Regions from separate parts of the Homo sapiens genome. Here all the other regions are reported to be linked to region 1. The links are microRNA targets in miRTarBase. Many come from high-throughput screens and were not tested one by one. Region 1 holds a microRNA gene; each other region holds the end of a gene's coding sequence.

Region 1 (5,103 bases):
ACTTAATTACAAAAATTTTAAAAAATATTTTTGCCTGGAGGGGTGGCTCAAGCCTGTAATCCCAACACTTTGGGAAGCTGAGGCAGAAGGATTGCTTGAGCCTAGGGATTTGAGACATGAGCAACATAGCGAGACCCTGACTCTACAAAAAAAAATTAAAAAATTAGCCAGGCATGGTGGCACCTGCCTGTAGTCCTAGCTACTTGGAAGTCAGGATGATTGCTTGAGCCCAGGAGTTCAAGGCTGCAGTGAGCCATGATCGTGCCACTGCACTCTAGCCTGGGCAACAGAGCAAAGTTCTTTTGAGACGGGCAGATCAGGAGGTCAGGAGATAGAGACCATCCTGGCTAACATGGTGAAACCCCATCTCTACTAAAAATACAAAAAATTAGCCAGACGTGGTGGCGGGTGCCTGTAGTCCCAGCTACTCAGGAGGCTCAGGCAGGAGAATGGCATGAACCTGAGAGGTGGAGCTTGCAGTGAGCCAAGATCGCGCCACTGCACTCCAGCCTGGGTGACAAAGTGAGACTCCGTCTCAAATAAATAAATAAATAAATAAATGCTCCTTTTTTTTTATTTTTTGAGATGTAGTTTCACTTTTGTTGCGCATGCTGGAGTGCAATACTGTGGTCTCGGCTCACTGCAACCTCTGCCTCCTGGGTTCAAGTGATTCTCCTGCCTCAGCTTCCCGAGTAGCTGGGATTACAGGCGCACACCAACACACCTAGCTAATTTTTGTATTTTTGTAGAGATGGGGTTTCACCATGTTGGCCAGGCTGGTCTCAAACTCCTAACCTCAGGTGATCAGCCTGCCTCGGCCTCCCAAAGTGCTGGGATTACAGGCATGAGCCACTACACCCAGCCAAAAAATGCTGTTCTTAAATAGCTCCATTCTCCCCATCCTTCTTTGAACTGTTTTTGTTATACAAATTACAGCTTTATTCATTGTACACCCATTCACACAGATTTATAATTGTTTTATGCAGTTGCCTCTTAGGAGAGAAAGATTTACAAACAAAAATATGTTTATACTGTCTATTATTTTCCTATATAGTTACTTTAACTGGCTCTTTATTTCTTCACATGAATTCAAGTTTCTGCTTATGATCCTTTCATTTTAGCCTGAAGGACTATTTAGTATTTTGTAGGTCTGCTAGCAACAAATTGCCTCAATTCTTCTTTATCTAGACATATCTTAATTTCACCTTTCTTTCTGAAGAATAGTTTGGTGGGCATAGAATTCTTGGTTGACTGTCATTTTCTTTTTTTATTTTTCTTTTATTTATTCATTTATTTATGAGACCAGGTCTCACTCTGTCACCCAGGTTGGAGTGCAGTGGCATGATTGTGGCTCACTGCAGCCTCGACCTCCTGGGCTCAAGTGATCCTCCCACCTCAGCCTTCTGAGTAGCTAGGACTACAGGCACACCCCACCATGTTCAGCTAAATTTGTTTTTGTATTTTTGGTAGAGACAGGTTTTCACCATGTTGCCCAGGCTGGTCTTGAACTCCTGAGCTCAAGCAGTCCACCCTCCTCCACCTCCCAAAGTGCTGGGATTATAGGTGTGAGCCACCGTGCCTGGCCACCTCTCATTTTCTTTCAGCATTTTGACTGTCATCCCACTGCTTCCAGCTTCCATGACTCCTGATGGAGGAATCACATGAATTCATCAGAATTCATGGAGGCTAGAAGCAGTATGAGGATCATTTACATGTGATATTCACTTCTCCCTTTCTGCTTTTTGGATTCTCTCTTTGCCTTTGTCTTTTGGCAATTTTATAATGATTTGTCTATGTGTGGCTCTATTAGAATGCATCCTATTGTAAGTTTTTTGAACTTACTGGATGAAGTTTTTCATCAAACTTGGGGAATTTCAGCCATTATTTTTCCAAGTATTCTCCTCTCCTTGAGGGATTCCCTTTATGTATATGTTGATGCCCTTGACAGTGTCCCACACTTCTCTGTGGCTATATTCATTTTTTTCCCAATTTGAATTGAGTTTTATCTTATTGGTTATGTGAGGCATTTTAACCCATTTTGTTCTTTTTTCTTCATAATTATTTTTCTTTCTTTTCCTCAAACTGGTTACTATTCATTGGTCTATCTTCAAGCACATTTGACTCTTTCTTCTGTCTGCTCAAATCTTATATGAGCCCCTCCAGGGAATTTTTCATTCTAGGTCATTGTAATTTTCAACTTTAGAATTTTTATTCAGGTTCTTGGAAAATTTTTTCTGTCTCTTTATTGATATTCGCTATTTGGTGAGACATCATTCTCATACTTGCCTTTAGTTCTTTGTTCTTTACATACAGTTTCCTTCAGTTCTTTTTTTTTTTTTTTTTTTTTTTTGAGATGGAGTCTTACTCTGTTACCCAGGCTGGAGTGCAGTGGCATGATCTCGGCTCACTGCAACCTCTGCCTCCTGGATTCAAGCAACTATCCTATCTCAGCCTCCCAAGTAGCTGGGATTACAGGCTTGTGCCATCAAGCCCCACTAATTTTTGTAGTTTTAGTAAAGACAGGATTTCACCATGTTGGTCAGGCTGGTCTTGAACTCCTGACCACAAGTGATCCACCTGCCTCAGCCTCCCAAAGTGTTAGGATTACAGGAGTGAGCCACCACACCCGGCCCAGTTCTTTAAACATAAGTAAAATAGCTGATTTAAAATGTCTTGTAAGTCCAACATCTGGGCTTCCTCAGTGACAGATTCCATTGACTGACTTTTATCCTATATGCGAGCCATACTTTCTTTTCCTTTGTACGTGCCATGACTATTTTGTTGAAAATTGAATATTTTGAATAATATAATGTGGCAACTCTGGAAATCAGATTCTCACCTCTATCCAAGGTTTGTTGCTGTTATTTGTTGTTGTTGCCATGTGTTAGTTTAGTGACTTCTGAAATAATCCTGTAAAGTATGCATTTTTTGTCATGTATGGCCATTGATCTGGTCCTACTCATTATCTTATTATCAGCTAATGATTGGAAAAAAATTTCCTTAAATGGCTGGAACCAATAAATCTCCCAGTCTTTGACAACAAAAACTTTGTGTGTGCACTGAGGCATGTCTCTACTCAACCAGGCAGTTTAAAGCTACACTTTAGTGGTCACTGGATGTTTGCACAGACCCACAAGATTAGTTAGAGATGAGATGTTGGGACTTTCTCTGGTCTTTTCTGAGCATGCAGAAAGCCTTACACTGGCTGCAAGGCCTTCTGTATTTCCAGTAACATGTTAGAGCTTTTCAAAACCTCCTATGGACATCTCATTGCCTAACTTACTTTTAAGCTCTTGGTTAACCTATTGTTTTTCACAACTGTTACACACTGTGCAGCAGCCATGATGTTAAACAGTTGCCTCTGATTGTTTTCAACAAATTTTCCCAGGGAAAAGGCTGTTTGCACCAAGAGAGGTTTGAGTATGGTCAAATAAAAGCTTTGCAAATGGGTCTTTCAGAGAACCACCCAGACAGGTCAAATAATGACAATTCTCTGGTAATGGTGCATTGAAGGCATTCCAACACCAGTCTTCTCCCTCCAGATGCTGCCAGGCTGCTGGTTTTCACTATGATTGTGGGTGGTTGTTTTTCATTACTACCATGGAACTGGGAATGCTGCAGATGGGTCCAGAGCAAGATAAAATGCCATGAAACTCACTATTCTTACTGAGAAGCAGCAATTTTTCTTCAATAGATGTTCCTTGGATTGCTGCATGGTTTGATTTTTTTTTTTTTAATTCCCAGAATTCTGGAAAACTTGATTCTGACCATTTTTGCCAGTGTTCTTGTTGCTTTCGTGGAGGAAATTTTAAAGATTCTTACTTCTCCATTTTCACTGTCCAAGCAAAAGGGCTCACTTTTGAATGAAGACACTGAGACCTGAGGGGAGCAACTTATCAAAGTTCTTATAACTATAAATGGGTGCAAATGCATATTTTTAAAGATTGAGGTAAAATTCATATGACATAAAATGAACCATTTTAAAGTGAACAAATTGGTAGCATTTAGTACATTTACAATGTTATAAAACTGCCACCTTTATTACTTTCAAAACATTTTTGTCACTCCAGAATAAAACCTCATGTCCATTAAGCAGTTAACTTCCCATTCCCTCCTCCCCACAGTTCCTGGCAACTAGCAATAGACTTTCTGTTTTTACAGATTTACTATTCTGTATATTTCACATAACTGGAATTATACAACCTATGATCTTTTGTGTCTGGCTTCTTTCACTTACATAATCATTTTGAGGTTCATCCACAGTGTGGCATATATCTTCATTTCTTTTTGTATTACTGAATAGTTTTCCATTATGTGTATATACCACAATTTTTTTATTTATTCATTGAAGGAAATTTGGGTTGTTTCCATGTCTAACTATTGTGAAGAGTGCTCTTATAGACATTTGTGTACAAGTATTTATTTGAGTACCTGTTTTCAGCCTTCTGGTTATATACCTAGGGGTGGAATTTGCTGAGTTATATGGTAATTCTGTGTTTAACTTTTTGAGGAACCATCAAACTTTTCTATAGGGGCTGAACCATTTTACATTCTTCCAGAAATATGAGAGTTCCAATTTCTTCACATCCTTGCTAGTACTTTTTAAAAATATTATTATATCCATCCTTGTGGGTGTGAAAATGGTATCTCATCAAGTTTTCATTTACATTTCTCTAATGACTAATGAGGTTGGACATCTTCTTATGTACTTTTTGGCTATCCATATACTTTTTTGGAGAAATATCTACTCAAGTCCTTTGCCCATTTTTAAAAATTGTGTTGTCTTTATGTTTTAGTTGTAAGAATTCTTTATATATTTTGAATACTAAATACTATGATTTTCAAATATTTCTCCCCCGATTCTATAGGTTGCCTTTTACTTTCATGATAATGTCCTTTGATGCACAAAGTTTTTAATTTTGATGACATCAATTTATCTATTTTTTCTTTTGTTGTTCTTACGTTTGCTATTACACCCAAAAAACCACTGTAAAATCCAAAGGCATAAAGATTTACCTCTAATTTTTCTTCTAAGAGTTTAGTAGTTTTAGCCCATTGATCTTTTTTTTTTTTTGAGACAGAGTCTGACTCTGTTCCCAGGCT
Region 2 (5,103 bases), not on the chromosome of region 1:
TGACCCTCTGCTCCCAGAAACCCTCCTGGCTCCTCCAGACCCTCCGGGGCTCTGGCCCGCAGCTCCCCTCTCCCTCCGGCGGCGGGGGTCGGCTGTGACTCACCAGAGGGCCAGCGGCCGGGGTTGGGGTGGGGGGGCCGGAATGCTCTCACTTCCTCTCCGCGCACCTGCCCCGAGGCTGGAGCGCCGCCCGGCCGGGCCTCCGGCGGATGTTTTCCTTGTTCCCAAGCGTGTAGTGCGCGCCAGCCGCCCCCTCCGGGACCTGCGCGCCAGCCACCGCGCCCCCAGGACCCAGCGGGCCTGGTCCTCACCACTCACCCCCTCCCCAGCAGGCACGCATGCGGGCTCGACCCACACCTCTGCACCGCCCCCCAACTTCTGGGAGAGGACTCCTGGCTCAGCCCAGCCTCTAGCTTTCCAGAAGCCCCTATATGCCTACCTCATCTTCGTTATAGGCGATGAACCTTCACTTCTGTCCCCGTTTCCGCACACGCACCAATCCCCACTGGCGATCCCTTCCCCTTCGGCATCACCCCCACCTTCATGCGCCCCAGCTCCCCACTCACATCCGCCCCCTATTGGGCTGGCTCTAGCTTGCAAGAGCAGAAGGTGGCCCAGGGCCCAGCCTTCCAGGATGTCCCCTGGACCCCCTCTCTGGGAAAGGCGGCAGAGCTACTGGCCACTGACAAGACCTTTGGGCCCTCGTGCTAGACAGGCCTTCGAATCCACCTGCTCCAGCCCAGAGAGCAGGCCCAGGCCGTGCCTCCCACACCGCAGCCGACCTCAGAGCACCCTGCCTCAACTGTGAGTTTTTTCTTGGCAATCCTCTGAAACGGAAAGGGTATCAGTCCTGACTAGGGCGAACGTGAGGTCCATTCTGCATCTCCATCCACCTTAGCTGTCTCCTTGGAAAAGGACAGCAAGGGAGTTTGAGGTGCACTGACACAGTCATTTCTGAACAGTGAAGAGATGACAGGTAGGGTGGTCCCCCTTGAAAAGTCAGCCAGAAGTAGCTGTATCTGATGCACTAGGTGGCAGGGAGTGAGTCTTGGAGTAAATGGGACTGAAAACGTAGAAAAACCAAATAAATGCCAAAGAGACTATCCCTATGGAGAATACCTAGAACATGGGTCTTTGAAGTGTGGAAAAATGAAAGAAATCCAATTTGACCAGGGCCTTTAGTGCCAAAGAGATGGCTAGCAGGAGAGTGGTGAGAAAGGAGAACTGGAGAGTTCACATGAGCGGAAATAGGAAGAAATGGATCCAAATCCAAGTGAGAAAAAGCAGGAGACTTAAAGTTAGCCTGGCAGGATGATGAGAAAAGGACATCTTGTCCTAGGGTAGAGGCGAGGGTGCAGATCTGGGGGAAGAAGGCTTATTGGGAACAGTTTCTCAAACTAGACATTCAGAAGTCAATACAAGGGCCAAAACCAAAATGTTCCTGGAGGTACCTGTTTTTGAAAGAGGTGGGAAAGGTGACATGGATTAGGGGTCTCCATCCCCCAGGCCACAGGCCAGTACCAGTCTGTGGCCTGTTAGGAAGCGGGAGCACAAAGCAGGAGGTGGGCGGCAGGCGAGTGAGCATTACCGCCTGAGCTCCTCCTCCTGGCAGATCAGCAGAGGCATTAGATTCTCACAGGAGTGCAAACCCCACTGTGAACTCCGCATGCAAGGGATCTAGATTGCACACTCCTTATGAGAATCTAATGCCTGATGATCTGAGATGAAACAGTTTCATCCCAAAATCATCTCCCCGCTGCTATCCCCCTCCATCCACTGGTGGAAAAATTGTTTTCCACAAAACCGGTCCCTGGTACCAAAAAGGTTGGGGACTGCTGACAAGGAGTATGAGTGTGAAAGGTGCAGAGGTCTATGCCAGGAGACAGCCATCCCCAATAGAAGCCCTCAGCTATGCACAAACTGCTTAATGTCATTCAAAGAAAATAATGTCGCCCATTTTGCCTCAGAGCTTTAGCCCCAATCACAGCAACTGCTATTTCCTGACGCTTACGCACCAGAGATGGTGATAAGAGCACTGCACGCATTATCTCAGTAATCCTCATAACAGCCCAATGAGTTGGCATTACTATCCCCAATTTATAGATGAGGAAACAGGCTCAGAGAGGTGAAGTAATCTGACCAGGTTACATAGCTAAGTGGAGTCAGGATCTGAATCCAAGAAGACTGTCTCTACAGCCCATGCTCTCAATAATCCATCCTGGGCTCCTCCAGAACCTGTGGGAAACTCAGAGGATGCCAAATGATAAATTCCTAAAAACCTCACTCCATTATATATGGGAGGAAAGAGAGGACACCTCTGTGAACCTGGAGTGATTCATCCCATCAGGGCACTTAGAGATGCTCCTCTTTGAAAGGGGAAAGAACCATCCCCAGATGTGGGGTGATCCCACATCTGCTGTATGTTTGAAGGTGATAAGCAATGGACAGTTCACCTCTGGAATGCCTGAGGAAAAGAGACCCTCCCCACCATCTCTGAGGGGCAGCCCTATTTCTTGGATACATTAGGGAAACCCTGCCCTAGGATCTGAGGGAAACACAGTCTCCACTCCAGGTGCCTGCTCACTCTCCTGGAGCTTCTGGCCGTCGCACCCTATTGCAGCTCCTGGGTTTGGCTGGGGCACAGGATTAACCATCCCCAGGAAATGCCTCCCTCCGGTCCAGGCAGGGATCCCAGCATACACACCCCTGGTGGTGGCAGTGGGGGAGAAAGGGGGAAGGTGGAATGCTTCCTTCTCTCCAGGTCAGGGAAGAGATCTGGGGACCACCTGGGGGCCCTCGCCCCTCCTGCCTCCTTGCTGGGGAAGTGCCCAGTCCAGTGCCCCCTCCATGGCCACCTCCCTCCCTCTAGCTGTGCCGGGGCATGAATCAGCTCTCACAGCTTGTTAAAGCTAGACCTCTTGTTTTCATGCCCTCACCTCAGGAAACAGAGTTACAACTTTTCCAGCTCTACTCAGCAGGGGGCCAGGGTCCTCACTTTATAAACATCCCCAGCCTGTGAGAGCAGAGGGCAGGGAGATAGTGTGAGACAGGAGCCCAGGGGAGAAAGACAGAAACTAAGACTCAAGGAGCAACGCAAAGCAAAGTCAAGGAGTCAAGACCAGAGTAGCTGAGCAGAGGCCAAGAAGGGTCTGAGAGGGCTGTGCAGCAGCAATGGCCCTAAGGATGCTCTGGGCTGGACAGGCCAAGGGGATCCTAGGAGGCTGGGGGATCATCTGCTTGGTGATGTCTCTACTCCTCCAGCACCCAGGAGTCTACAGCAAGTGCTACTTCCAAGCTCAAGGTAAAGTGGGGTGAAGCGTTAGGAATGGAGGAGCAGCAGAGAGGGCACAGGGAGGATGGGGCCTTACAGATGATCCCGTGTCAAAATACCCAGGCTTCCTCCAGCTGTGAAACAGGAAAGACAAACTAAATACGGGGATAGTGCGTACTTACTGTCTCCACCCCAGACCAGAAGAGCCTCTGCCTCTCATCAGCACTCCTACACCTACTAACATTTCCCGTTCTTCCCTAGCCCCCTGTCACTATGAGGGGAAATATTTTACCCTGGGTGAGTCTTGGCTCCGCAAGGACTGTTTCCATTGCACCTGTCTGCATCCTGTTGGCGTGGGCTGCTGTGACACGTGAGTGACCAAAGATGGCCAGAGAGAATGACTCTGATATGAGTGACTGAGGGATGACCAGGGAGTGACTAGATTGCTGTGATGTAAGAATGAACAGAAGAGCAATACAAGATGGGCCAAACCTGAAGGGACCAACACTAGTGTGAAAGATAAGGCTTCAGGCTATAAATCAGGGGAGGTTGGGGTGGACCTGGAGAGAAAATACTCCTGTTATAAAACAAAAAGGCCCACATATGGTAGGTGACAGCTTAGTTAGGAGGACCAAGGGGCCACTGAAAGGGGCTCTGTGGGGGGAAAACTGTGAGAGAGGGAACATGTGGGCAGGGATAAAGGCAGCCTTTCACTGTGCTGACTCCTTCCCCTATCCTTGGTTCCCCAGGTCCCAGCATCCCATCGACTTCCCGGCTGGGTGTGAGGTACGTCAGGAGGCAGGAACCTGCCAGTTCTCCTTGGTGCAAAAATCTGACCCTCGGCTGCCCTGCAAAGGGGGAGGGCCTGACCCAGAATGGGGCTCAGCCAACACCCCTGTTCCTGGGGCTCCTGCTCCCCACTCCAGCTAAACTCAACTGATCATCCATCTGCTGACTGCTCACTGCTGCTGCCACTTCCAGGGAAACCACTAGCAGCTGCCAATGTATTCTGAACAAATAAATTAATGCTATAGCTGAAAGCCCGACTCTCACTGTCCACGACATTGGACCCCAGGTGGAAAAAGTGGGTCCCATTAGAGTCCAGGTGCTGAGTTCTCAGTATCCGGAAGGAACTAGCACCAGGGTGGGCCAGTTTCAGATGGTTATGGTGCTGGTGCTGGGGCCTGGGGCAGCATATGAGGCCAGGGTGGGGCTAGTAGGCAGCACCTTGATGGGCAGGTCCCAGCTGAAGGTGTCTACAGGTACTTGCTCAGGTCCTGTCCAGGTGGTAGGTTCGGGCTGTTCCACAGGGGGTAGGAGTACCAATCCTGGTTCTCGGGACGTTACAAATTCAAAATGCAATCTCCACTTCAAGGACACTATGGAAGAAAAAGATTAAGGTAGAAGCATCAGAAGCTAGCAGGAGTAAAAGCCAATGACAGGATATAGTTAGTGAATGAGAAGAAAACAATCTGTGTTCAGGAAGACAGGGAAAAGTCACAGGGCAGGGAGCTGTGATTAAGGGTTTTTCTGAAGCAATGGGTACTACCACAGATGTGAGCTGAAGATAGCAGTATTAAGTACCTAATAACCTAAGAGTGAGGCAGTCAAGTCTAGGTAGCATGAAGTAATCAAAAATCAGTGTATCACAGGGTCCTAGTAGGTAGGTGTGGGGAAGGAGTTCTATCAAGCTGTTAGGAGTTTAGGGGTCAGTGCATCTAAGAAACAGGAAGAGGTTGAAGGTCTGAGAAACTGTTCCGGGTCAGAGGCTAGACGTGGGTATGTCTGGGAGTGTGTATAAGGAATCAGGATCCATTACACCCTCCCTTAGC
Region 3 (5,103 bases), not on the chromosome of region 1:
GAAAAAATTCTTCCTCGTTTTATTTTCCTTCCAAAGAACGTGATACAACAAACATTAATCATGGAGGGCAAGGCCAGACCTGATAATGCCTTTGGTAGAATTGGACAACATCTAATGTTTTGTCCATTTTTATGTGTCTTCAGCTTGTAGAGCCCCTTCAGCTCTAAGAGGAGGGAGGAGGGACTACTTCTTTGTTACCTCACATAATTCACTTAAGTGCATGCCAAACCTGCCAGCTTCAGGTAAGTTATGATGAGACAGCATTAGGCATTTCAATCAATGGGCTCTAGCAGGGGATTTAGGCCTTAGGGACAGAACATGATTTTATTTCTCATGCAAAGAACAGAATTGTAGTATTGGAGACAAAGCAGGGCATAGAGGTAAACACAAGGAACACAAGAAAAAAATTTGGTTTTTCTTGGTTGTATGGCATTATAATGATTACATGTTGTAAATAATTGTATTTTATTTAATTAATTTATTTTTTTTGAGACAGAGTTTTGCTCTTGTTGCTCAGGCTAGAGTGTAATGGCACAATCTTGACTCACTGCAACCTCTGCCTCCCAAGTTCAAGTGATTCTCCTGTCTCAGCCTCCTGAGTAGCTGGGATTATAGGCATGTGCCACCACACCCAACTGATTTTGTATTTTTAGTAGAGACGGGGTTTCACCATGTTGGTCAGGCTGGTCTCGAACTCCTGACCTCAGGTGATCCGCCCACCTCAGCCTCCCAAAGTGCTGGGATTACAGGCATGGGCCACTGCACCCGGCCTTAACCAATTTTAAAAGAAAAAAAAAAGTTCCAAGTTCCATTTGGGGAAGAAGTACAATTTAGAGGCTCCAAAGGAATATGAGGCAGCCCCTCTCCCAGCCTCTGCAAGGCTGCAAAGACACCTGTCAATCTACCTTGCTTTCCATTTTAATCTTCAAGGAAAGACCAACCAGTTCTGACTCCTGCAGCTTGCTGACCCAGAAGCCTGTATCTTTATCTCCCCTTTTCACCCCTCTCTGCGTGATCAGCAGGTTGGCATCAGTTCATTCCCTCGAGACATACAAAGGTCAAGTTTTTTGCTCTGATGAATATTTTCCAGCAATATCTATTCCAGAACCTCCCTGTTTGGCCAGACACCAGTGATTACCCCTTGTCCGTATGTGGTAGTTAACCATTTTCCAAAAGCTTTCAGATTTATAAAGATGGTTCTGGGGGAACTCACAAGACACTAAATTTCCTCATTCAACCACAGAATCATATTTGACCATTTTAGTAGAAAACGAAATTGGATACTAAGCTCTTGAAAAAATATATATATTAAAAGTCCACGTATGTGGTGGTGGCTCATGCCTGTAATCACAGCACTTTGGGAGCACAAGGCAGGTGGATCACTTGAGGTCAGGAGTTCGAGACCAGCCTGGCCAACATGGTAAAACCCTGTCTCTACTAGAAATATAAAAGTTAGCCAGGCGTGGTGGCAAGTGCCTGTAATCCTAGCTACTTGGGAGGCTGAGGCAGGAGAATCACTTGAGCCTAGGAGGCAGAGGTTGCAGTGAGCCAAGATCACACCACTGTACTCTAGCCTGCACAACAGAGACAGACTCCATCAAAAAAAACAAAAGGTCCATGTTATGTGACAGATCATACCTCTCTGCCTTTACTCCAAGCTCAGTTTATGGTACTCAGAAAGACCAACGTGACCTACATTAAGATTTTTCATTCAGCCAGACGCAGTGGCTCTTGCCTGCAATCCCAGCACTTTGGGAGGCCAAGACAAAAGGATCACTTGCAGCCAGGAATTCAAGACTAGTCTGGGCAACATAGCGAGACCCTGTCTCTACAAAAAAATTTAAAAAGTTAGCCAGGCACAGTAACATACACCTGTAGTCCTAGCTACTGGGGAGGCTGAGGCAGGAGGATAACTTCAGCCTAGGAGGTCGAAGCTGCAGTGAGCTAGTATCACGCCACTGTACTCCAGTCTGGGTGACAAAGCGAGACCCTGTGTCTAAAAAGAACAGACTTCACTGGGCACCTCGAAGGGCAAGGCAGGACACTAGGTGCTTGAGGTAGAGAACCATCGTTCTTTCCATGCTGCTGTATGGGGAAGGCACATATGCAGCCACCTTGGCATAGTAAAGAACAAAACAGAGATGGTATAATGGGAGAAAAGGATCCCCCTGGTGAAAACAAAGGAAAAGAACATTGTCCCAATGGAAAGGACACAAATGAGTTTAGGAAGAGGTTGGCGGGTGTCATCTGGTCTTCCTGAGTGGGCACAGAAACTCCAGGCTTATGTCATAGTGTGGGCAAATGCATGCCACTTTCCAAGAATCACAAATGCAGGAGAGGTGCAAGAGGCCATGTCCCATGCTACAAAGTCCTGACTGCCAGGCTGGGAGTACTGGACTTTGTATGCATCAACAAAGAGCACAAGGGGAAGTCATAGTTCAACTGGCTGTGGTGGGAGGGGAATATGGGGGCAGAGAAGAGACTGCTGAATAATCCACTGAGGGCTGACATAGCAGAGCTGACATGGCAATGGAATGAAAATTAGCAGATATTTGAGAAGCACAGGTCTGATACAGATGACAGGGATGTGCAACCACATATGAAAGGGTGAGGAAGGAGGGGAGGCTGACTCTGAGCATGACTTTTATGTGTGAACACTTAGTTGGAATCCATGGACTGCCTGGCTTTTGCTACTTAAAACTTCATTGTGGTTATTATTCACATCCTGCATCGAGCCCTTGTTTTAAACTTTTAAACATCCTTAAGGTAAGTGGTGGGGGAGTTATTTCAACCCTCCTGTTACAGATGACAGAACCAAGCCTTGGAGCCTGTGACCTGAACAGGGGAGCCAACTAACCAGTGCAGAGATGGGACAAGACACTGGTGGAGTCCTCATTATGCAATCAAATAAACCAGGAAGATAGCTCAAAACAGTCCTAGTGGCATGTTTCTGGGGCAAATGGGACAAAGCTCATAGAACTTTACACCTTCAGAGCTGGGCACGGTGGCTCACGCCTGTAATCCCAGCACTTTGGGAGGCTGAGGTGGGCGGATCACCTAAGGTCGGGAGTTCGAGACCAGCCTGACCAACATGGTGAAACCCCGTCTCTACTAAAAATACAAAAATTAGCCATGCATGGTGGCTGGCACCTGTAGTCCCAGCTACACGGGAGGCTGAGGCAGGAGAATTGCTTGAACCTGGGAGGGGAGGTTTCAGTGAGTCGAGATTGCGCCACCACACTCTCCAGCCTGGGCGACAAAGCGAGCCTCCATCTAAAAAAAAAGAACTTTACACCTTCAGCTGCAATGGAAGGTGGTTTGCTGATAATGCCCATTCCAAAAGCAAATGGAAAGCTCCCACACCGTGTTGAATTTTTTTAAATGGATGCACAAGAATTAAGTCTTAGATCTTTGGTTGAACTAAATTACCCTTAGCAGGTGCTATTTTTAGACCTCAAGCTTTCCCATCATAAAGAACAATTTGTCTAAAAAGCAGGTAGAGAAATTCATTGACAAGGGCTTAGATGTTTTAGGACTTTAATGTTCTTTACATATTCAACATAAAATACTGACAATAGATAAACAATAGGGGAAAGACTTTTCAGCAAAGTATCACTCTCGTAGTCATACATTACAAAGAAAACAGTAGAGAACAAAGGATAGGGTAATTTAACAGAAATGTTTAGTTTAATGGCATAATTGAAAAACAACCAACCAATCAACTTTCTCTTCTACCTATGGAAAGAATGGTAAAAATGAATCAAGAACTTCTAGGTCTTTTTCATAAAACAGCTTAAAAAGAGGAAGGCGAAGACTGGGGAGGGGGTACAACTCTTGCTAATGGAATGCTATAATGCACAAGGTCAAGGATTTAATAAATTCTAAAAGTGTCTACATATATCAGTGATAACTGTATTATTAGAAATATAAATGTATAGAAATATAAAGTATATGGTATTAAAAACAGACCTTGCTAATATAAACATATATAAAGTATGTCACTTCTCCTGTAATAACAGCATAAAGATCGATCTACAGTTTGCCCTTCGCCTGGCACTCTTAAACCACTCCTCCAATGGTCAATGTTGACCTTGAATCAACAGCCGCTGAACCCAGGAGACCCCACAGATGTGTAGATTCAGCACCTAGAGGGCCCCCCTACCCTCTGTGCTGTGTGTTCCCATGACTCCAGAAATAATTAATCGCAACTTGCATTATTAAGTCCACAGGCAAGTTTGAAATCTAACTAGAAAAAGTAGCAGCAAAGGCAAAATACGCGGGAATTTGTTAGAAAAGCAACAAGATTTCTTAAAATGCTTCCAGTTCAAGTCAGAATTAAGGTGACATTAGGTCCCACCAGCTTTACAGAGTTGTGGATGTTTTGCTGTTGTTCTTTCAAAAAAGAAGAATCTGCAATAAACATGTTCATTTGAGAAAAATACTGTGTTAACTTTTTGTAGCCATCCCCAAGTTACTTTAAACTTTGTATGTTGTTCAAGAACAGAGTATATCCTGGTTAGGATGTGTTCATAGCTGATGCATCTCCAAAAATTTTTTCATGAAGGCGGCCAGCTTCTGAACGTCTTCAATTGTGACAGCATTATACAGAGAGGCCCGGATGCCTCCCACAGACCTAGAATGACCAAAGATCCAGGCATTGAGAACAAAAACGTCTAATTTCGCATCAAAACACCTTTTTCTAGCCACTGGCTCCTGAGAGTTGCAGCACCTGAGACCATCATTTCCGGTCTCCTACCTAAAAACTCCCGACACCTGGCACAGAGCTTCACACGTCTCAGTCATCAGAAAATTCTCCCTTAAGCTGTGAAGGTTCACCATGCTCACATTTAGAGTCATTCGAACTATTCACTCTTGGCAAAGAAAGCAAGCAAGATGTGGGGAAGAAAAGGTAAGTTGGAAGAAGATAGCGATTCTGTTCAACATTCATGAGCCTGTCGTGACAGTGCCAGCAAGATCGGGGCTGGGCTATTCTCATGTGAGGACATTCCCTGCTGCTATTCTCATGTGAGGACATTTATTTTTCATAGAGCATGCAAGACTAGCTACTAATTTGATGTTCAGTTGGAATAATAATGATTCTCT
Region 4 (5,103 bases), not on the chromosome of region 1:
AAAATTAGTGCGTAGGTAGCTGGGCGTGGTGGCTCACGCCTGTAATCCTACCACTTTGGGAGGCTGAGGCGGGCAGATCACCTGAGGTCAGGAGTTTGAGACCAGCCTGGCCAACGTGGTGAAACCTCGTCTCTACTAAAAATACAAAAATTAGCCAGGCATGGTGGCGGGCGCCTGTAATCCCAGCTACTTGGGAGGCCGAGGTGGGAGAATCGCTTGAACCGGGGAGGCAGAGATTGCAGTGAGCCAAGGTCGTGCCATTGTACTCCAGCCTGGACAACAAGAGTGAAACTCCACCTTAAAAAAAAAAAAAAAAGAATTAGTGCATAGGATGGGAGCAGGAGAGGGAGGTAACCAGGGACATGGAGAGAGACAAAAGCTTATCGGGTGTTGGGGGCCCACCTTGGGTTAGAGACCATATATTTTTAGCAGCCCCAGATTCATACCTAGTGTCTGGTACCTAGAATGAGTTCAAAAAAGTTTGTTGGCCAGGCGCGGTGGCTGATGCCTGTAATCCCAGCACTTTGGGAGGCTGAGGCAGGTGGATCACATGAGGCCAGGAGTTCGAGACCAGCCTGGCCAACGTGGTGAAACCCCATCTTTACTAAAAAATACAAAAATTAGCCAGGTGGGGTGGCGGGCACCTGTAATCCCAGCTACTCAGGAGGCTGAGGCAGGAGAATCGCTTGAACCCGGGAGGCGGAGGTTGTGGTGAGTCGAGATTGGGCCACTGCATTGTAGCGTGGGTGACACAGCGAGAACTCTGTCTCAAAAACAAAATGTGTTGAATGAACAAGCAAGTGGTTGTATGAGCACCAACCCCTGTGTTCAGAGCAGAGAAGGGAGATAGTTGGATGGATCCAGGCTGTGGATTGAGAACAGGATTGTGAATGGAGGGTGGAGTGTGCTGATGAGATAGGGGTTGATATGGTGACCTTGAAGTATAGGCTGGAAAGAAAAGGAAGTGTCAAGTAGTGAGAAAACAGAAGGGCCAAAAGCTTTGTGACAAAACACCCAATCAGCTGGTTTTTTTGTTTGTTTGTTTGTTTTTGAGACGGAGTCTCGCTCTGTCACCCAGCCTGGAGTGCAGTGGCACCATCTCGGCTCACTGCAAGCTCCACCTCCCGGGTTCACACCATTCTCTTGCTCAGCCTCCCGAGTAGCTGGGACTACAGGCACCCGCCACCCCGCCTGGCTAATTTTTTGTATTTTTAGTAGAGACGGGGTTTCACCGTGTTAGCAGGATGGTCTCGATCTCCTGACTTTGTGATCCGCCTGCCTCGGCCTCCCAAAGTGCTGGGATTACAGGCATGAGCCACCGCGCCTGGCCATAAGCTGTTTTTTTTTTTTTTTTTTTTTTTTTTGTGTGGCTATTATAACTGACTACATGAAAATAAATATAAAAAATTTTCCTAGTGTATGAACCTAAAAAGCAAAAAGAATTTTTTTTTTTTTCTGAGATGGAGTTTTGTTCTTGTTGCCCAGGCTGGAGTGCAGTGGCACAATCTCAGCTCACTGCAACCTCCACCTCCAGGGTTCAAGTGATTCTCCTGCCTCAGCCTCCCGAGTAGCTGGGATTACTGGCGCCCGCCACCATGCTCAGCTAATTTTTTGTATTTTTAGTAGAGACGGGGTGTCACTATGTTGGCCAGGCTGTTCTCGAACTCCTGACCTCAGGCGATCCACCCGCCTCGGCTTCCCAAAGTGCTGGGATTACAAATCACAGGTGTGAGCCACTGCGCCCGGCCTTAAGAAAGACAATTTAAAAAAATTTATCTGTTATTGAAAATACAGGAAGCCAAATGTTTGGAAGTAGACAGAGGGGATTGTTGTACAACATTGTGAGTATACTAAATGCCATTGAATTAGACTATTTATTTATTTATTGAGAGAGAGTTTTGCTCTTGTCGCCCAGGCTGGAGTGCAATGGCGAGACCTTGGCTCTATAAAAATACAAAAATTAGCCAGGCATGGTGGCACGTGCCTGTAATCCCAGCTACTCGGGAGGCTGAGGCAGGAGAACGGCTTGAACCCGGGAGGCGGAGGTTGCAGTGAGCTGAGATTGCGCCATTCCACTCCAGCCTGGGTGACAAAGTGAGACTCCATCTCAAAAAAAGATAATAATAAATAAGTTAATTAAATAAATAAAAAGGGCAGTTTCTCAAAGTGTGTACTAATTAAAAATCCGGATTTTTGGATTCTTCTTGGGACCTTGTGACTCAGAATCGGGAAAGGTGGAGCCCAACTCTGGATTTTTACCATGGCACCCCGAGGGTTCTGATTCTCCTGAAAAAAATTTGAGATCGGCCAGGCGCGGTGGCTCACGCCTGTAATCCCAGCACTTTGGGGGGCCAAGGTGGGCGGATCAGGAGGTCAGGAGTTCGAGACCAGCCTGGCCAGTATGGCGAAACCTTGTCTTTACTAAAAATACAAAAATTAGCCAGGCGTGGTGGCGTGTGCCTGTAGTCCCAGTTACTCGGGAAGCTGAGGCAGAAGAATTGCTTGAACCTGGGAGGCAGAGGTTGCAGTGAGCCAAGATAGCACCATTGCATTCCAGCCTGGGTGAGAAAGCAAGACTCCATCTCAAAAAAAAAAAAAAAAAAATTGAGATACCTGGGCTTAGAGGTCAAGGAGCAGGTGCACGGGAGTCGGAGGGATGCTGGAGATGGTATTAGGCGGGATGGTTCTTCCGTTCTTCCGCATGAGAAAGTCCAGGTTCTGCAGGGGAGGCTGCCGCCGTGGCGGGGTAAGCAAGGTCACGGGCCTTTTGGCAGTACTTAAAGCTTGTGGGTAAATGGCGATTTAACTAGAAGTCACGAGTCATAACATAGACTAAAGGCCTGTGCGAGCTGTCCCCATCTGGCTCAGCAGCCAGAAGGAACTACTTTGCCTCTGGCTGTCTCTGTCCCAGTCTCTCTGGCCTCTTTAGGTCCCAGATGTGTTGTTTCCTCCTGCCTTCACACGACACTGCCATTGCCCAGAATGCTCATCCCTGGACGGTCCCCGAACTCCCCTCATCTTTCACTTCTCTGCTTAAAGGTCACTTTCTCAGGGAAATCTTCCCCAAACCCAACCTAGCTCAGAACTCCCTGTCACGCGTTCTCCTGGCTCCAGTACTTCTCCTCTGAAGCAAAGATATTGTAGTTAAATAACTAGGGAGGCCTGGCGCGGTGGCTCACACCTGTAATCCCAGCACTTTGGGAGGCCGAGGCGGGTGGACCACTTGAGGTGAGGAGTTTGAGAACAGCCTGACCAACATGGCGAAACCCCATCTCCACTAAAAATACAAAAATTAGCCGGGAGTTGTGGCGGGCGCCTGTAATCCCAGCTACTCCGGAGGCTGAGGCAGGAGAATCACTTGTACCTGGGAGGCGGAGGTTACAGTGAGCCGAGATGGCACCATTGCACTCCAGCCTGGACGACAGAGCAAGACTCTGTCTCAAAAGAAAAAAAAAAAAAAGGGAATGAATTAATGTGTTTTTGTTGTTGTTGTTGTTGTTGTACTGCTATACTATGCCTGGTACTTTGTAGGGACTCAAATCCAGATTGTTTGTGGAATGCATGAAGGAGCTTTAGGAGAAAGATTGGGCTTCAGGAGTGGAAGCAGATGATGGAGGTGAGAAATGTTCGTGGAGTGATGCTACCTCCCTCCAGCCCAGCCTGGGGCTTCGGTCAAGCCTCAGGGAGTCCCTGATGAATATCCCATGAACAGCACTAAGATGTGGTCCCTAGGACAGGGGCCCACGGCAGCATGACGTTCTTGCTGCCCAAGCCTCAGCTTCTGTGTTAGAATGTAGGTACCAGACTCCAGAGACGTCACGTGGCTTGTCTGGTGAGGCCTGCGGTTGTGGCACCGCTGAGCCACAGGAGCAGATGGCTCGAGCAGCCATAAGGAGCAGTGGAAATGAACGCGACTCGGTCACAACAGGTCACAGGTGGTCATGTGCGTCGGCCGCAACAGGGAAGGGCCTGCCCTGGCTAGCTCCCGTGAGCATCTGTGTGCAGGCGAGTTAGTTTAGTTACTGTGACCTCTAGAAATGACTAAGTTCACTTTGTGGCCTTATCAAGCCTCACCCTTGAGTTTGGACTAAGTCAAGTTTTGATGTTTACCCTGGAACACAGCCACAGCACAGTCATCCAATAAACATTTGCTGATAGCCTCCGTGTCAGGTGGCTTTTGGGTGCAGAAGAGAGACTGGGTCCTCCCCCACAAGCTAACAGAATCATGGATAAGCACACCATACACTCTCTAAACACTACAGAGAAAACACACACTCATGCTTAGTAAAAGATTTATTTTCTTCTTTATGCTCAGAAACAAAGAAACGGCCTTGTCCCCAAAGGGTCTCCTCTTGAAGGAATGGGGGCAGAGAGAGTGATAATGGGAGGTGTTGGTGTGAGGTTGAGAGTAGGAGTTTTGTCTCCCCCTTTCCCTCCTGTCACTCCTCTTTTCACTGTCCCCTTCCAGAAAATTTAGGTATGAACACAGCTTGCCACCCACGGCGGGGCTGGAGAAGCAGAGCTGCAGTCAAAAAATTAATGCCCACATTCAGCAAGAGAGGGTCCAGTGTGTATCTTGGGGGGATGGGGGAGAGAGTGTGAAGGGATTGGTTGAAGAAGCTTCCAGGTGAGGGGAAGGGAAGAGGGGCTGGGACAATCCCCCATTGACAGTGGGGATCTTAATCCTGCCCTCACCTCTCCCAACCCCATCCCCTCCCTTCTTCCCACCCCGCTTCCTAGCAGAGTTGATCATCATAGTCGTCATCCTTCATCCCCTTCAGCCGAAGCCGGGCAAAGTCCTCAAACACAATGTCATCATCTGTGGCATAGCTTGGTGGTGGGAAAGAGGGTTGTGAGGTGAGGGCTTCTGACTCTTGTCCCAGCCTCCCACTCCCTGCCCTCCCCGAAGCTAGGCCTCTGGGACAGAGGCGTTCGAACAGCAGTGGGACCAGAGGTATTTACAGGAAGGGACAAAGAAAAGGCAGCAAGAGGCAGCCTCACAAGGCTAAGGCATCTTGATTTGATGCTACAATCCGCTTCTCCCCACCAAAAGCAAGGAAGAGGTATGAGGGCAGATTTGAATGTTATAGGAATCTTTGTCCC
Region 5 (5,103 bases), not on the chromosome of region 1:
GTTGGCCAGGATGGTCTCGATCTCTTGACCTCGTGATCCACCCACCTCGGCCTCCCAAAGTGCTGGGATTATAGGCGTGAGCCACTGTGCCTGGCCTCTAGCAAGAGTATTTCTTTTTTTTTTTTCTTTTTTTTTTTCTTTTGAGATGGAGTCTTGCTCTGTAGCCCAGGCTGGAGTGCAGTGGCGCGATCTCGGCTCACTGCAAGCTCCGCCTCCTGGGTTTTCACGCCATTCTCCTGCCCCAGCCTCCCGAGTAGCTGGGACGACAGGCACCCGTCAGCGCGCCCGGCTAATTTTTTTTTTTTTTTTTTTTTGTATTTTTAGTAGAGACAGGGTTTCACCGTGGTCTTGATCTCCTGACCTCGTGATCCACCCGCCTCAGCCTCCCAAAGTGCTGTGTAATTACAGGCATGAGCCACTGCGCCCGGCCTAGCAAGAGTATTTCATAGACAGTATGCGGTGTGCTTCACTTGGCTTCATATTAGGAGGTATTATTTTAGTGATGGTAAGACTGGTTAGTGGGTCCTGAACCCATTTCTAGGATTCTTTTTCACCTGATTTTGCCTTTGCTCTGTCTTCCCCAGCCTCAGAGAGTTGTGATCACATGCCCTCAGGACTTCCCTCATTGCTCCATTCCACTACGGGTTGGGCTGCCCCTCCTCTCGCCTGAGTTCCTGCTGACTGGAGTGCTGAAGCAGGAAGCCAAGCCAGAGGCCTTTGTCCTCTCCCCTTTGGAGATGTCATCCACCTGAGAACTCCACTACCCTTTTCCCTCCCAGACCACGAATTAGAAGATATGTGGAAGAAAGAACTCAGGGCGTTAGAAAGGATTGGGGTATATTGATACAACTTGTCCTGGAACATGGGTGGGACCAGAAATCTTTATGAATAAATGAAAAGATAAGGGATTTGGAAGCCACAGGTTGTTTTTTGTTTGTTTGTTTGTTTTTTTAATGGCCATTTTATTTTATTTGTATTTATAGTTTTTTATTTGTATAGATTTAGGGGATACAAGATTTCTTACATGCATGTATTAAATGGCCATTTTAAAATTAGCTAGTTTCATGCTCAGATGTCATAAGTGGCAGCTATCTTTAGCCAGACTGTTGCAGTTATTGCTCGATGCCACTCATGGTGTCCTACCTCCTATTTGGAAACCATCTCTATTTTTTTCTTACTGAGATTCTTACTTTGGGGTCAGGAACTTGAAGGGATGCTTGGAGTGAGTAGATTTGAGGGTCCAGTTATGGAGTGCTACTAAAACATTTTCTTCTCTCCTGGCCTCTGGAAGCATCTTTAGCTTTGACTTTGGGCAAGTCTCTGTACTTTTCTGGCCAGCTTTTCCAGGATTTATAAAATTAGAGCTTCGGCTTGACCTCTGTGATAAATAAATATTCACTCTGTGCCTTATGGTGTAGTGTAGTTTTTTAAAATGTCTAGGTCTCAAGACACAAACTTAAAAAAAAAAAAGTCATAGACTTGTATTTAATTCATCATTATCTTCTATTTAGGACAATTTGTATGACATTTCTTAAGATTTTTTTTTTTTTCTTGAGACAGGGTCTCATCTCTGTCACCTAGGCTGGAGTGCAGTGGCACCATCTTGGCTCACTGCAACCTCCACCTCCCAGTTCAAGCAATAGTCCCACCTCAGCCTCCTGAGTAGCTAGGACTGCAGGCACACACCACCATGCCTGGCTAATTTTCTTTTTTTTATTGTTTAGTAGAGACGGGGCTCTACTAAATTTTTGTATTTTTGGTAGAGATGAGGTTTTGTCATGTTGCCCAGGCTGGTCTCTAACTTCTGACCTCAAGTGATCCACCCACCTCAGCCTCCCGAGTAGCTGGGATTACAGGCACATGCCACCACACCCGGCTAATTTTTGTATTTGTAGTAGAGACGGGGTTTCACCATGTTGGCCATGCTGGTCTCGAACTCCTGACCTCAGGTGATCCACCTGTCTTGACTTCCCAAAGTGCTGGGATAACAGGCATGAGCCGCCATGACTGGCCTTTTATCTTTTTGAGTCAAGGTGTCACTCTGTTGCCCAGGCTGAAGTGCAGTGGCTCGATGTCGGCTTACTGCAGCCTTGACCTCCTGGGCTCAAACGATTTTCCTCTCAGCCTCCCAAGTAGCTGGGACCATAGGTGTGTGCAACCATGCCCGATGAATTTTGTATTTTTGGTAGAGACGAGGTTTTGTCATGTTGCCCAAGCTGGTCTCTAACTCGTGACCTCAAGTGAGCCACCCACCTCAGCCTCCAAAAGTGCTGGGATTACAGGCTTGAGCCACCGTGCCCAGCCAGATTTAAATTTTAAAAGTTGGTTGATTACAAGGATGTGGAGAAATTAGAATCCTTATACATTGCTGGTAGGAATGTTAAATGGTTCAGCCTCTGTGGTAAACAGTTTGATGGTTCCTCAAAAAGTTAAACATATGGATGGGCACAGTGGCTCACACATGTAATCCCAGCACTTTGGAGGCCAAGGCTGGCAGATCACTTGAGCTCAGAAGTTCACGGCCAGCCGGGCAACATGACAAAACCTCGTCTCTACCAAAAATACAAAAATTCACTGGGCATGGTGGCACACACCTATGGTCCCAGCTACTTGGGAGGCTAAGAGGAAAATCGTTTGAGCCCAGGAGGTCAAGGCTGCAGTGGGTGGACACGAGCCACTGCACTTCAGCCTGGGCAACAGAGTGAGACCTTGTCTCAAAAAAATAAAAGGCCAGTCACGGCAGCTCATGCCTGTAATCCCAGCACTTTGGGAAGTCAAGACAGGTGGATCACCTGAGGTCAGGAGTTAGAGACCAGCCTGGCCAACATGGTGAAATCCCGTCTCTACTTAAAATACAAAAATTAGCCGGGCGTGGTGGCATGTGCCTGCAATCCCAGCTACTTGGGAGGCTGAGGCAGAAGAATTGCTGGAACCCGGGAAGTGGAGGTTGCAGTGAGCTGAGATCGTGCCACTGCACTCCAGCCTGGGCAACAGAACAAGACTCCATCTAAAAAAAAAAAGGCCAGGCGTGGTGGCTCACCCCTGTAATCCTAGCACTTTGGGAGGCCAAGGTGGGCAGATCACAAGATCAGGAGATTGAGACCATCCTGGCTAACATGGAGAAACCCCGTCTCTACTAAAAATACAAAAAATTAGCTAGGCGTGGTGGCAGGCGCCTGTAGTCCTAGCTACTCGGGAGGCTGAGGCAGGAGAATCGCTTGAACCCGGGAGGTGGAGGTTGCAGTGAGCCAAGACTGCTCCACTGTACTCCAGCCTGGCGACAGAGCGAGACTCCCTCTCAAAAAAAAAACAAAAAAAAAAAAGTAGCCTCTTTTCTGGCTGGAACCCTCATGTAGAGTGTTGTAGATAAGAAGGAGAGGGCCGGGGTGCAGTGGCTCACACCTGTAATCCCAACACTTTGGGAGGCCGAGGTGGGCAGGTCACCTGAGGTCAGGAGTTCAAGACCAGGCTGGCCAACATGACAAAACCCCGTCTCTACTAAAAATTCAAAACAAAATTAGCCGGGCATGGTGGCCAGCCCCTGTGATCCCAGCTACTCAGGAGGCTGAGGCAGGAGAATTGCTTGAATGCAGGAGGGGGAGGTTGCATTGAGTCGAGATCGCACCATTGCACTCCAGCATGGGAGACAGAGCAAGACCCCGTCTTAAAAAAAAAAAGAGAGAGAAAAAGAAGGAGGTTCTTGCTATGCCAGAAACCCTTAAAAAGCGAAGGAATTTCCCAGAGCTGAAGATCAAAGGCCCGAGAAAGAAATTTGCCCAAAAGATGATTCAAAAGGCAAGGAGGAAGCTTATCTATGAAAAAGTGAAGCACTATCACAAGGAATATAGGCAGATGTACAGAACTGAAATTCGAATGGCTAGGATGGCCAGAAAAGCTGGCAACTTCTATGTACCTGCAAAACCCAAATTGCCGTTTGTCATCAGGATCAGAGGTATCAGTGGTGTGAACCCAAAGGTCCGAAAGGTGTTGCAGCTTCTTCGCCTTTGTTAAATCTTCAGTGGAACCTTTGTGAAGCTCAACAAGGCTTCAATGAACATGCTGAGGATTGTAGAACCATATATGGCATGGGGGTACCCAAAGCTGAAGTCAGTAAATGAACTAATCTACCAGCATGGTTATGGCAAAAATCAATAAGAAGCAAATTGCTTTGACAGATGACACTTTGATTGCTTTATCTCTTGGTAAATATGGCATCACCTGCATGGAGGATCTGATTCTTGAGATCTATACTGTTGGAAAATGCTTCAAAGAAGCAAATAACTTCCTGTAGCCCTTCAAATTATCCTCTCCACAAGGTAGAGTAAAGAAAAAGACCACCCATTTTGTAGAAAGTGGACATGCTGGCAACAGGGAGAACCGGATCAACAGACTTATTAGAAGAATGAGCTAAGGTGTCTACTGTGATTGTTTTTCTAATCTAAGCACTTAAGCAGTACCTGCTCTCAAATTGGAGGAAAAAAAAGAAAGTTAAATACGGAATTACCGAACAGTCCAGCAATTCTGCTCCTAGGTGTACACCCAAAAGAATTTAAATCAGGTGTCCAGGCTGGGTGGGGTGGCTTATGCCTATAATCCCAGCAGTTTGGGAGGCCAAAGTGGGAGGATTGCATGAGCCCAGGACTTCACGGGCAACCAGTCTGGGCAACATGGCAAAACCCTGTCACTACAAAAAATACAAAAATGGGCTAGGTGCGGTGGCTCACGCCTATAATCCTAGCACTTTGGGAGGCAAGGTGGGTAGATCACCTGAGGTCAGGAGTTCAAGACGAGCCTGGCCAACATGGCAAAACCCCATCTCTACTAAAAAATACAAAAATTAGCCGGGTGTGGTGGCTCATGCCTGTAATCCCAGCATTTTGGGAGGCCGAAGGTGGTTGGATCACCTGAGGTCAGGAGTTCGATACCAGCCTGACCAACATGGAGAAACCCGTCTCTACTAAAAAATACAAAATTAGCTGGGCGTGGTGGTGCATGCCGGTAATCCCAGCTACTCCGGAGGCTGAGGCAGGAGAATCACTTGAACCTGGGAGGTGGAGATTGTGGTGAGCCAAGATCATGCCGTTGCAACAAGAGCAAAACTCC

Evidence for each region. The annotated mature microRNA hsa-miR-2115-5p reads AGCUUCCAUGACUCCUGAUGGA and lies in region 1 at 1,632-1,653, shown strand. An mRNA with a match to its seed (bases 2 to 7 or 8) in the 3' UTR can be bound and repressed. Matches are read on the target gene's strand: a 7mer-m8 pairs with bases 2 to 8, a 7mer-A1 pairs with bases 2 to 7 and ends in A, and an 8mer does both.
Region 2: the mRNA of RGP1 is a reported target of hsa-miR-2115-5p. Seed matches in the 3' UTR shown: 7mer-A1 at 2,745-2,751.
Region 3: miRTarBase lists PSAT1 as a target of hsa-miR-2115-5p. Seed matches in the 3' UTR shown: 8mer at 4,315-4,322.
Region 4: miRTarBase lists ARRB2 as a target of hsa-miR-2115-5p. Seed matches in the 3' UTR shown: 7mer-m8 at 4,620-4,626.
Region 5: the mRNA of MDC1 is a reported target of hsa-miR-2115-5p. Seed matches in the 3' UTR shown: 7mer-m8 at 911-917 and 8mer at 1,286-1,293.

Annotation. Positions count from the first base shown.
Region 1 is chr3:48,312,968-48,318,070 of GRCh38, reverse strand. It overlaps MIR2115 (microRNA 2115), which reads left to right and starts at 1,612; the gene lies at 1,612-1,711. The region is part of intron 6 of SPINK8 (serine peptidase inhibitor Kazal type 8 (putative)); the gene reads left to right.
Region 2 is chr9:35,752,198-35,757,300 of GRCh38, reverse strand. RGP1 (RGP1 partner of RAB6A GEF complex) reads right to left here. Exons shown (of 9, transcript NM_001080496.3): 9 at 1-4,650. The coding sequence ends at 4,427. MSMP (microseminoprotein, prostate associated) reads left to right here and starts at 3,025. Exons shown (of 3, transcript NM_001044264.3): 1 at 3,025-3,301; 2 at 3,533-3,641; 3 at 4,021-4,311. The coding sequence starts at 3,172. The coding sequence ends at 4,201. RefSeq lists a silencer at 1-304 and an enhancer at 3,212-4,411.
Region 3 is chr9:78,328,511-78,333,613 of GRCh38, reverse strand. PSAT1 (phosphoserine aminotransferase 1) reads right to left here. Exons shown (of 9, transcript NM_058179.4): 9 at 3,521-4,633. The coding sequence ends at 4,528. Among named protein-coding and RNA genes, the nearest start is that of PSAT1, 34 kb to the right of the region's middle.
Region 4 is chr17:4,720,673-4,725,775 of GRCh38, reverse strand. It overlaps ARRB2 (arrestin beta 2), which reads right to left. Exons shown (of 15, transcript NM_004313.4): 15 at 4,279-4,830. The coding sequence ends at 4,737. Among named protein-coding and RNA genes, the nearest start is that of MED11, 8.2 kb to the left of the region's middle. RefSeq lists a silencer at 1-55.
Region 5 is chr6:30,696,114-30,701,216 of GRCh38, reverse strand. It overlaps MDC1 (mediator of DNA damage checkpoint 1), which reads left to right. Exons shown (of 15, transcript NM_014641.3): 15 at 585-1,410. The coding sequence ends at 752. It also overlaps the pseudogene RPL7P4. Among named protein-coding and RNA genes, the nearest start is that of MDC1-AS1, 4.4 kb to the left of the region's middle. RefSeq lists an enhancer at 196-697.